Linked DNA regions of Homo sapiens: regions 1 and 3 are each linked to region 2. Evidence: fine-mapped expression QTL. A gene starts in region 2. Each other region holds a variant in brackets. All regions are shown on one strand. Distances are between the middles of the regions. Region 1 holds the start of SNORA11B (small nucleolar RNA, H/ACA box 11B). Region 2 holds the start of RPS6KA5 (ribosomal protein S6 kinase A5). Region 3 overlaps RPS6KA5 (ribosomal protein S6 kinase A5).

Region 1 (2,834 bases), 66 kb before region 2:
CTGCCTGGGGCAAGTAATTCAGCTGAGCTGAGAACCAGAAAATCATATTTCAGGATTGCAAAAGTCAGATTCCCTGCCCCAGGCTAGGAGCACAGGTAAAGGCTGGGAGAAGGACGACACAGTGTGAGAGGGGACAGAAACCGGAAGAAGCAGTTTCCCCTGGCTCCCTGCCAGCCACTTCTGCCCGGCGTTCCCTGCCTGGCCAAACCGCAAACAGCCTGAAGGCAAGGGCCAGACAGCCCGGCCTCATCCCTCTGGCCCAGGCCCAGTGTGTTGGGGCAGAGGCCAGAAGGCTGCAGTCTGAAGGAAGACTCAGGGAGAACGGGGTGTAGAGGGGGCAGGTGCAGCGAGGACAAGGTCCAGATTCTACAGCATGACTTGACTTGAGTTTCTAGCTCCAGTTGGCAGCTCACAGAGTTATCAGAAAATGGACTAAGGTCCTGGCATGGTGGCTTACGCCTGTAATCCCAGCACTTTGGAAGGGTGAGGCAGGACTGCTTGAGGCCAGGAGTTCAAGACCAGCCTGGGCAACACAGCAAGATCCTGTCTCTACAAAATATTTAAAAAATACCCAGGCATGGTGGCACATGCCTGTGGTTCTAGCTACTTGGGAGGCTGAGGTGGGAGGATGGCTTGAGATTGGGAGGTTGAGGCTGTAGTGAGCCATACTTGTGCCACTGCACTTCAGCCTGGGTGACAGAGGGAAATTCTATCTCAAAAAAAAAAAAAAAAAAAAAGAGTATCATCAAGGCCTGACTGAGAAGAATGTACATCGGCCAGCTTTGCTTGGATGTGGGCAGCCTGTACCACACTGGGGTGTTGCATTTCTGGAATTGTTTATGTGGAAAAGGCCATGGATGGATGCCAGGCAGTCAAGGGGTGGAGTGCAGTGGCTATTTATTTCTGCCCTACAGGGGGTGGAATGTGGCCCCCAAAGAGATAAATCCAAGTCCCAACCCTCACCCCATACCTGTGAATATGACTTTATTTGGAAAACGGGTCTTTGTAGATGCAATTAAGTGAAAGATCTTGAGATGAGATTATTATGGATTAATTGAGTGGACCCTAAAACCAGTAACATATTTTTTTGTGTGTGGTGGAGATGGGGTCTTGCTATATTGCCCAGGCTTGTCTCAAACTCCTGGGCTCAAGCAGTTCTCCCACCTTGGCCTCCCAAAGTGCTGAGATAACAGGCCTGAGCCACCGCACCTGGTCTGACACGTTTTTTGTTTTTTCAATGTGTAGGGCATTTGTTTGTAGGGAGGTCACAAGCTCTGTGTCCCTTGTCACAATGACCCCAGATTCCTATTGGGTGTGTTGTAAACAGAGGAGGCATTCTTCGGGCCCCCTGCTCTGAGCACACCCCAACACATGTAATTATAAGAA[G/AAGAAG]GCACAGACATGACAGGAGAAACACAGAAGGGGCCATCCTGTGAAGATGGAGGCAGAGATTGGAGTGACGCAGCTACAGTCCAAGGAACTCCAAGGATTTCCTGGGGCCACAGAAGCTGCAAGAGGCAAGGAAGGATCATTCCCTAGAGGCATCAGAGGGAATATAGTCCCCCTAATACATTGACGTAGAACTCCTACCCCCCAGAGCTGTGAGATAAGAGATTTCTGTTGCTTTTAGCCACCAAGTAAGTTGGGATTTGTTGTGGCAGCCCTAAGAAACCATTACGTGCCCAGCAAATTGGAAAAGTGTCCCCCAGTACCCAGTGGGGCTGTCAGTCACTATCTCAGACCTAGGTGACAATCAAAATAGCCCATCCTCCTTAGCACAATGCTTGGGTTGAGGATGGTCACATGACCCCAGCTAGCCAACCAGAGTTATCCTTTGAATTTGTTTTGTTTTGTTTTGTTTTTTAGAGACTGTGTCCTGCTCTGTCACCCAGGCTAGAGTACAGTGGCAAGATCTCGGCTCACTGCAGCCTCTATCTCCTCGGTTCAAGCAATTCTCCTGACTCAGCCTCCTGAGTAGCCCAGGCTCGGCTAATTTTTGTATTTTTAGTAGAGACAGGATTTCACCATTTTGGCCAGGCTGATCTTGAACTCCTGACCTCAGGTGATCCGCCTGCCTTGGTCTCCCAAAGTGTTGGGATTACAGGAGTGAGCCACTGTGCCCAACCTTAACCTTTGTATTTGTATAGCTGTCGGGAAAGAAGTATTTCTTACCTCTGAAACTGCTAGACACAGGGACAATGTGAGCATAGGCTGCCAGTGGTCATTTGTCACCCCACAGAGAGAGCTGGCTCGAGAAGGAAGCCAACAGAGAAGAAAGCAGAGAGCCAAGAGTAAAAAGAGGCAGGGCTTGACGCTGTCATCCCTGGCCCTACAAGCAACCCTATCTAAACACAGTTCTATCTCTGGACAAACAACCTTACCTAAACACAGATCTATCTCTGGGCTTTTCTGCCAGTCACTTCCCCTTTTCTGCTCAAATCCATTTGAGACAGGATCGCAGCCATTCCAGAGGGCAGAGTCTGCAGCAAGTACGTGTTTGAAATGCTTGTTCCCCGGTGCCGTAAAGAAATAGTACTTGAACATAAATTTAATTTCCTCAGCAAGGCCATTTTTACACTTTCTGCAGAAAGGGTACACTCGCCAGTAGTTGTGCCCCATGAGTATATAGAACAAAGGAGACAGGGTCATTTATAACCTGACTCGTCCACCCTACTGCTGTGTCCAGTTTCCATTGGCTGGAATGGGACCTCAGATCCTGTATTTGTCCCAATTGGCTGGCAACTTAGAACCTTTTAAAAGAGGCAAAGGCAGAGGAGAACAAAGGAAGGAGGAAGTAACTTGTGCAATGTTGAGAAAGGTAAAAACACCTTCAAATAAGG
Region 2 (2,500 bases):
GTTCCCCATTATCTTACCACACCTCACCTTGTCAGCTGTATCTCTTACATCATACTTTCATCTAACCTTATCAATCACTTAACCCACCCTTGCCTTCTCTGCTGTAGGCCAATGCTCACAGTTACTCTCTCTGTGTGGAATGTCTATTGCTGGTATTTCTCTCTTATCCATCCTTTACGTTGGTTATCTCAAATGCCTCCTTGCCCTAAAAGCTTTCCCCAGTTCCTCGTCTGGGAATAATTATTGCCATCCGTGCGAGATTCTCTAACGCTTTGTACGACTGCTTTATTTCAAATTCTGCTTTATAGTTCTTTTGTGTACACACACAGATTGTTTCTCACGTTCTATTGAAAGCTGCTTAGGGGAGGAATTGTATTCTATTTTGTTAATCTCTGCATCCTTTCGGCGCCTAGTAAGAGTCTTGTACGAAACAGAAATGTCTCTCCTTCGTAAAATTCCTCATCGGGAGCTGGGACTGTGAATTTTTGTAACGTTTAAGAACTATCTGTTATTTAAGAACAAACACTCTGCTTAACTTGTTTAGGGTTCACTAGAGCGAGTAAGACCTTTTTAGGGCACGCCGTCTCGCTGGTTGTCACACACGCATGGATCGCTGCCGGGACCCTTAGGTTTGTCTGCAAACACGTGGGTGATAAGCGCTACCCTCCAGGCCCCTCCTCTGTCCACGGTGATTGGCGGACCAAACGTTCCAATCATCCCTCCCCGCCTCTTTCGGCAGTAGCCAATCAGAGACCCCGAGCGCCTCCTGACTACTAGACACTGTTTACTAACAGATCGAAGCTGGGGAATAAGGGGTGTGACCGTTCTGGGGAGGTCAGGGAAGGGAAGGTCTTGACTGCGAGTGCGCACCAGAGGAAATGGGCGGGGCAGAGCTTTGGGTCTCACCAATCGGAGTGGCGGCGCTCCTCCCTCTCCTGCCTCCCCGCCAAGCAACAACAATTCGAGGAGCGAGGCGGGGAGGCTCGTGAAACGTCACAGCGTACTGCCCAATGGGAACCGGCGTTGGCAGACGCGCGCGCCCTGTGTCCAATCAGCGAAGGCGGCTCGAATGGCTCCCTTACCTTGCTGGCTGTGGGCGGAGCGGCCTGAGGAGGCGGCGGTGGAGCAGGGGGCGGTTTGGTTGCGCGGTACTAGCGGTGCCCGCCGAAGGGGGAGGAGGCGAGGAGCGAGCCGTGCGGCCAGAGCGGGAAAGAGACTCGTCTTTGCGTCCGAGTTCTGGAGCCGCCGCACCCCGACTCCTGGGGCCGCGGCAGCGGCTGCGAGGGGACGGGCGTCCGCTGTCTCCTGGGTTCCCCTCGTAGCGACCCGCGGGATCGGAAAAAAAGGAGAAGATGGAGGAGGAGGGTGGCAGCAGCGGCGGCGCCGCGGGGACCAGCGCGGACGGCGGCGACGGAGGAGAGCAGCTCCTCACTGTCAAGCACGAGCTGCGGACTGGTGAGCGACCCCGCCCTCTGCCGGCCGGGCCCGGCGCGGGGGCGCGCCTGAGGGCACGCGGGTGCCCGCGCGGGGCTGGGGGCGCGGGGCCGCAGCCGTGGGCGCGGAGGGGCGGGCCTGGGGCGGGGCGTCGCGGTCGGGGCGCGTGCCCCGGGGGTCCCGGGAGGTGGGGGCGCGCCTTGGGGGAGGCGGCCGAAAGTTTTCCCCAGCCCGGGAATGAGCGGCGGGCACCAGGCATCGGGGCCAGCGCAGCCGCCGACCGCTGCCCGTGGCACGCACCTCCGAGGATGTCGCTGCTCCCCCTTCCCGCACAGGTGACACACGTGTGTCTGCGTCCTGTCAGGGCGAAAGGTGCGCCTGCCTCCGCGTGGGGCGAGCGGCGCTTTGTTTTGGAGAGTGTCTCCCTCCTCCGCCCCTCTGGTCCCCGCGATGGGGGGTCCCGGTGGGGCTCTGTGGAGCCATCCCCTAAGGTGCTGGGGTCCTGTAGGAGATAAACGGGAGGTTTCGCCTCGGGCTTTTACCGAGTCCAGTCTAGAGACAGGAACAGGAATCGCCGGCTCCAGGGATTGAGTGCCTTTATTCTCACTTATCATGAAATACTATACTTGGCCTTGAATTTCCTTCAGAGGTCCCTGGAGATGATGGCTTTAGAAATTTAAAGCTCCAGGTAAAAGGAACTAACGAGCAGGCTTCAGCGCTTACGTTCTAATGTTTGAGATCACTAGCGTTGTCCTAAGCTTTATAACTAATTAAATGTATTCGTGGTGTAGGTTCAGGTTGTTCATTTTGGAAAATGCTTATTCAGACCAATCAGTACAATTTGGATTTATATTCTTGGAGCCCAGTCTCGTATTGTAGATATATTAATACTTTTTTCTCTGAACAGATAGTACATTTTAATGAGTCGTTCGTTATTACTAGATATGTTTGTGAGCGTTGAAGGTTTTTGACAGAGCTGCTTTGGCATATTGGGATTTTTTTTTTTTTTTTTCAGACAGAGTTTCGCTCTTGTTGCTCAGGCTGGAGTGCAGTGGCATGATCTCGG
Region 3 (2,846 bases), 120 kb after region 2:
GCCCAGGCTAGTTTCAAACTCCTGAGCTCAGATGATCCTCCCATCTTGGCTTCCCAAACTGCTGGAATTACAGGCATGGGCCACCCACACTTGTCCGTTTTTTATTCTGTTCTTTTAAAAAAAAAAAAAATAGAGACATTGGGTCTAAAAATAGACATATGGTCTCGCTCTGTTGCCCAGGCTGGAATGCTATCATAGGTTGCTGTGGCCCCAAACACCCTGAGCTCAAGTGATCCTCCTGCCTCAGCTTCCCGAGTAGCTCTAGGACTACATGTGTGCCACCACACCCAGCTAATTTTTTTTTTTTTTGAGATGGAGTTTTGCTCTTGTTGCCCAGGCTGGAGTGCAGTGGCACGATCTCAGCTCACCGTAACCTCCACCTCCCGGGTTCAAGTGATTCTCCTGCCTCAGCCTCCCGAGTAGCTGGGATTACAGGCATGTGCCACCACGCCCGGCTAATTTTGTATTTTTAGTAGAGTCGGGGTTTCTCCATGTTGGTCAGGCTGGTCTCGAACTCTTGACCTCAGGTGATCTGCCCACCTCGGCCTCCCAAAATGTTGGGATTACGGGCGTTAGCCACCACTCCTGGCCCAGCTAATTTTTAAAATTTTTTGTAGAGATGGGTCTCACTGTGTTGCCCAGGCTAGTCTTGAACTCCCAGATTCAAGTGACCCTCCTGCCTCAGCCTTCCAAAGTCTAGGGTTACAGACATGAGCCACTGTGCCTGGCCCCTAGTGTTTTTCTGTATGCAATTTTGATTTCCATTTTAAGAGATTATTAAGAACTTTCTCATATTCTTAGCATTGAGGAAAACAATATTTCTAAGTTTAGAAACATTTAATTCAGGCTGACATAACTGAAAACATGAAACAGAATTCATGCAGATCAAGCACCTCTTATATGAGTTGGATAGATTATTTGTTATATAGCTGAAGTGTTTTGCTATAGAACTTACAAAAAAGTAAGTTTTATAAATGCAAAGTAAAACAGAGGGATCTATAAATGTTACTTAATTGATTTTCTTTGCTTATTTAGAACTAAAGTTTGAGCCTAGTGCAGTGGCTCACACCTGTAATCCCAGCTACTCTGGAGGCTGAGGTGGGAGGATGGCTTTAGCCCAGAAGTTTGAAGTTGCAGTGAGCTAGGACCACGCCACTGCACTCCAGCCTGGGTGACAGAGTGAGACCCTATCTCAAAACAACAACAACAATAACAACAACAAAAAACAACTAAAGTTTGAGTAAAATTAACCTATGATCTTCAACCTTTATGTTTAAGAGCCTGTTAATCAACAATTCTTTATAAATTTCCTATTTTATACATGGTGTGCTGCACAAATACCTATAAATACATAAAAAGTGAAAAAAAGAGTTAGAGTATAGGTATATAAAGACAAGTAGGAAATAGCTAGAAAATATCAGTCATGTATAGGTAAGTACAATGTAAACATAGGTGTTGTAGGATGAAAAACAAGGAAATGACAGGGGATCTGGTTAGTCAGGAGAGTCTTCTGAAGCCGTTAGGAAGTGATGGACAAGAATTGGCTATGAAGGCACCTGAAGGTCATCTAGAGTGAGAGTGAACTAGGAAGAATAGAGACATGAAGAAGCACGAGTCAAGAGGGAGGCCCTAAAGAAGCTGACCCAACAAGGTAGACCCT[G/C]TGCACAAGGAGAACAAAGACGTGGTTGGAGAGGTCCAGAGAACGCAGCAGATAAAAGAATTTCCATTTTCCCTGACCAATCACCAAGAGCCATTACAGGATCCTGAGGAGGGAAATGCCTTAAAAAAAAAAATAAATAAATAAAGGTAGACGAGAAAGACTGCCCTAATTCATTTTTTTGTAAATTATTTTAAAATTTATATTTCTTTGTTTTTGCAGTTGGGGATTATATATCGTGATATTAAGCTTGAGAATATTCTACTTGATTCTAATGGCCATGTGGTGCTGACAGATTTTGGTCTGAGTAAGGAGTTTGTGGCTGATGAAGTGAGTATATTTTAATTTGAAGTTAGTAATAACAGCATGTAAACAAGGATGAAAACTTAGCCGTAGAATAAACATTTAGCAGAAAACTGCCCTGTGAATTCTGAACTTTTGTGCAGATTTGTCCATGGAAAATGTAGAGATTTTTAGTTTAAAATTCGTATGGAGCCGTCCTGTTAAAATTGCGGTAAACCTTGATGGGTATATCAGAATTCCTATTTATTTAAAAAAGAAAAAAGACACTATGCATTTAACTTTCCCCATAAAATATGTAAAATATAACTGAAAAATCAAATAACTCTTTTGGCCCTTCAGGAGAATTATGGCTTTGATAGTGGCCAATAAAGAATCATAAAGCAAAGTACATACAGTTTACATTGTGGTAACAAAGTAGGACATGCTATGAAGGCCCTTTGAATTCGCTTGACAAGAATGACAGAGATCTACTAGACCCAATTTTTAAATAATATTGCTGGTTTTTGCTCAACATGAATTAAAATATGGTGGCTAATGTGCAGATTTTACATTTGGAGAACTTTAATTTTCAGTATTAATTAGAATTTGTTTAATATTACAAATGCATTTAATGACACTTAAAATTGTACATCTATTAGTTGTAATTAAGTACTGTTTATGTAATGGTTGTAATAGAAGTTACATTTATTTCTGCACTACTAGTTATTCAAGATAACTAAGTAAATTTGAATGTTAGTTTCGTTTCTATCTAGGAAATTGTTGGTATAGAATATGAAATCATACTAAAATTTTTGTAGTGAAGGACTTTGTTGTTATAAAAGACATCATTCTTGGATTCCAAATTAGGTATATCTATTTCTGATTGGTTTTTGGAGTATATTGCTAA

The links. PIP is the estimated chance that this variant, and not a neighbour inherited with it, causes the effect.
Region 1: its variant is fine-mapped to the expression of RPS6KA5 in whole blood (INTERVAL, PIP 0.92).
Region 3: its variant is fine-mapped to the expression of RPS6KA5 in whole blood (INTERVAL, PIP above 0.99).

What each region holds. Positions count from the first base shown.
Region 1 is chr14:91,124,957-91,127,790 of GRCh38, reverse strand. The region is part of intron 1 of DGLUCY (D-glutamate cyclase); the gene reads right to left. It overlaps SNORA11B (small nucleolar RNA, H/ACA box 11B), which reads right to left and starts at 1,365; the gene lies at 1,239-1,365. The variant G/AAGAAG (reference allele first, on the strand shown) is at 1,387.
Region 2 is chr14:91,059,287-91,061,786 of GRCh38, reverse strand. RPS6KA5 (ribosomal protein S6 kinase A5) reads left to right here and starts at 1,146. Exons shown (of 17, transcript NM_004755.4): 1 at 1,146-1,455. The coding sequence starts at 1,353. It also overlaps a transcript of DGLUCY not described here. RefSeq lists silencers at 644-773, 994-1,053, 1,424-1,553, 1,624-1,693 and an enhancer at 836-1,416.
Region 3 is chr14:90,942,219-90,945,064 of GRCh38, reverse strand. It overlaps RPS6KA5 (ribosomal protein S6 kinase A5), which reads left to right. Exons shown (of 17, transcript NM_004755.4): 5 at 1,880-1,987. Among named protein-coding and RNA genes, the nearest start is that of LINC02321, 120 kb to the right of the region's middle. The variant G/C (reference allele first, on the strand shown) is at 1,661.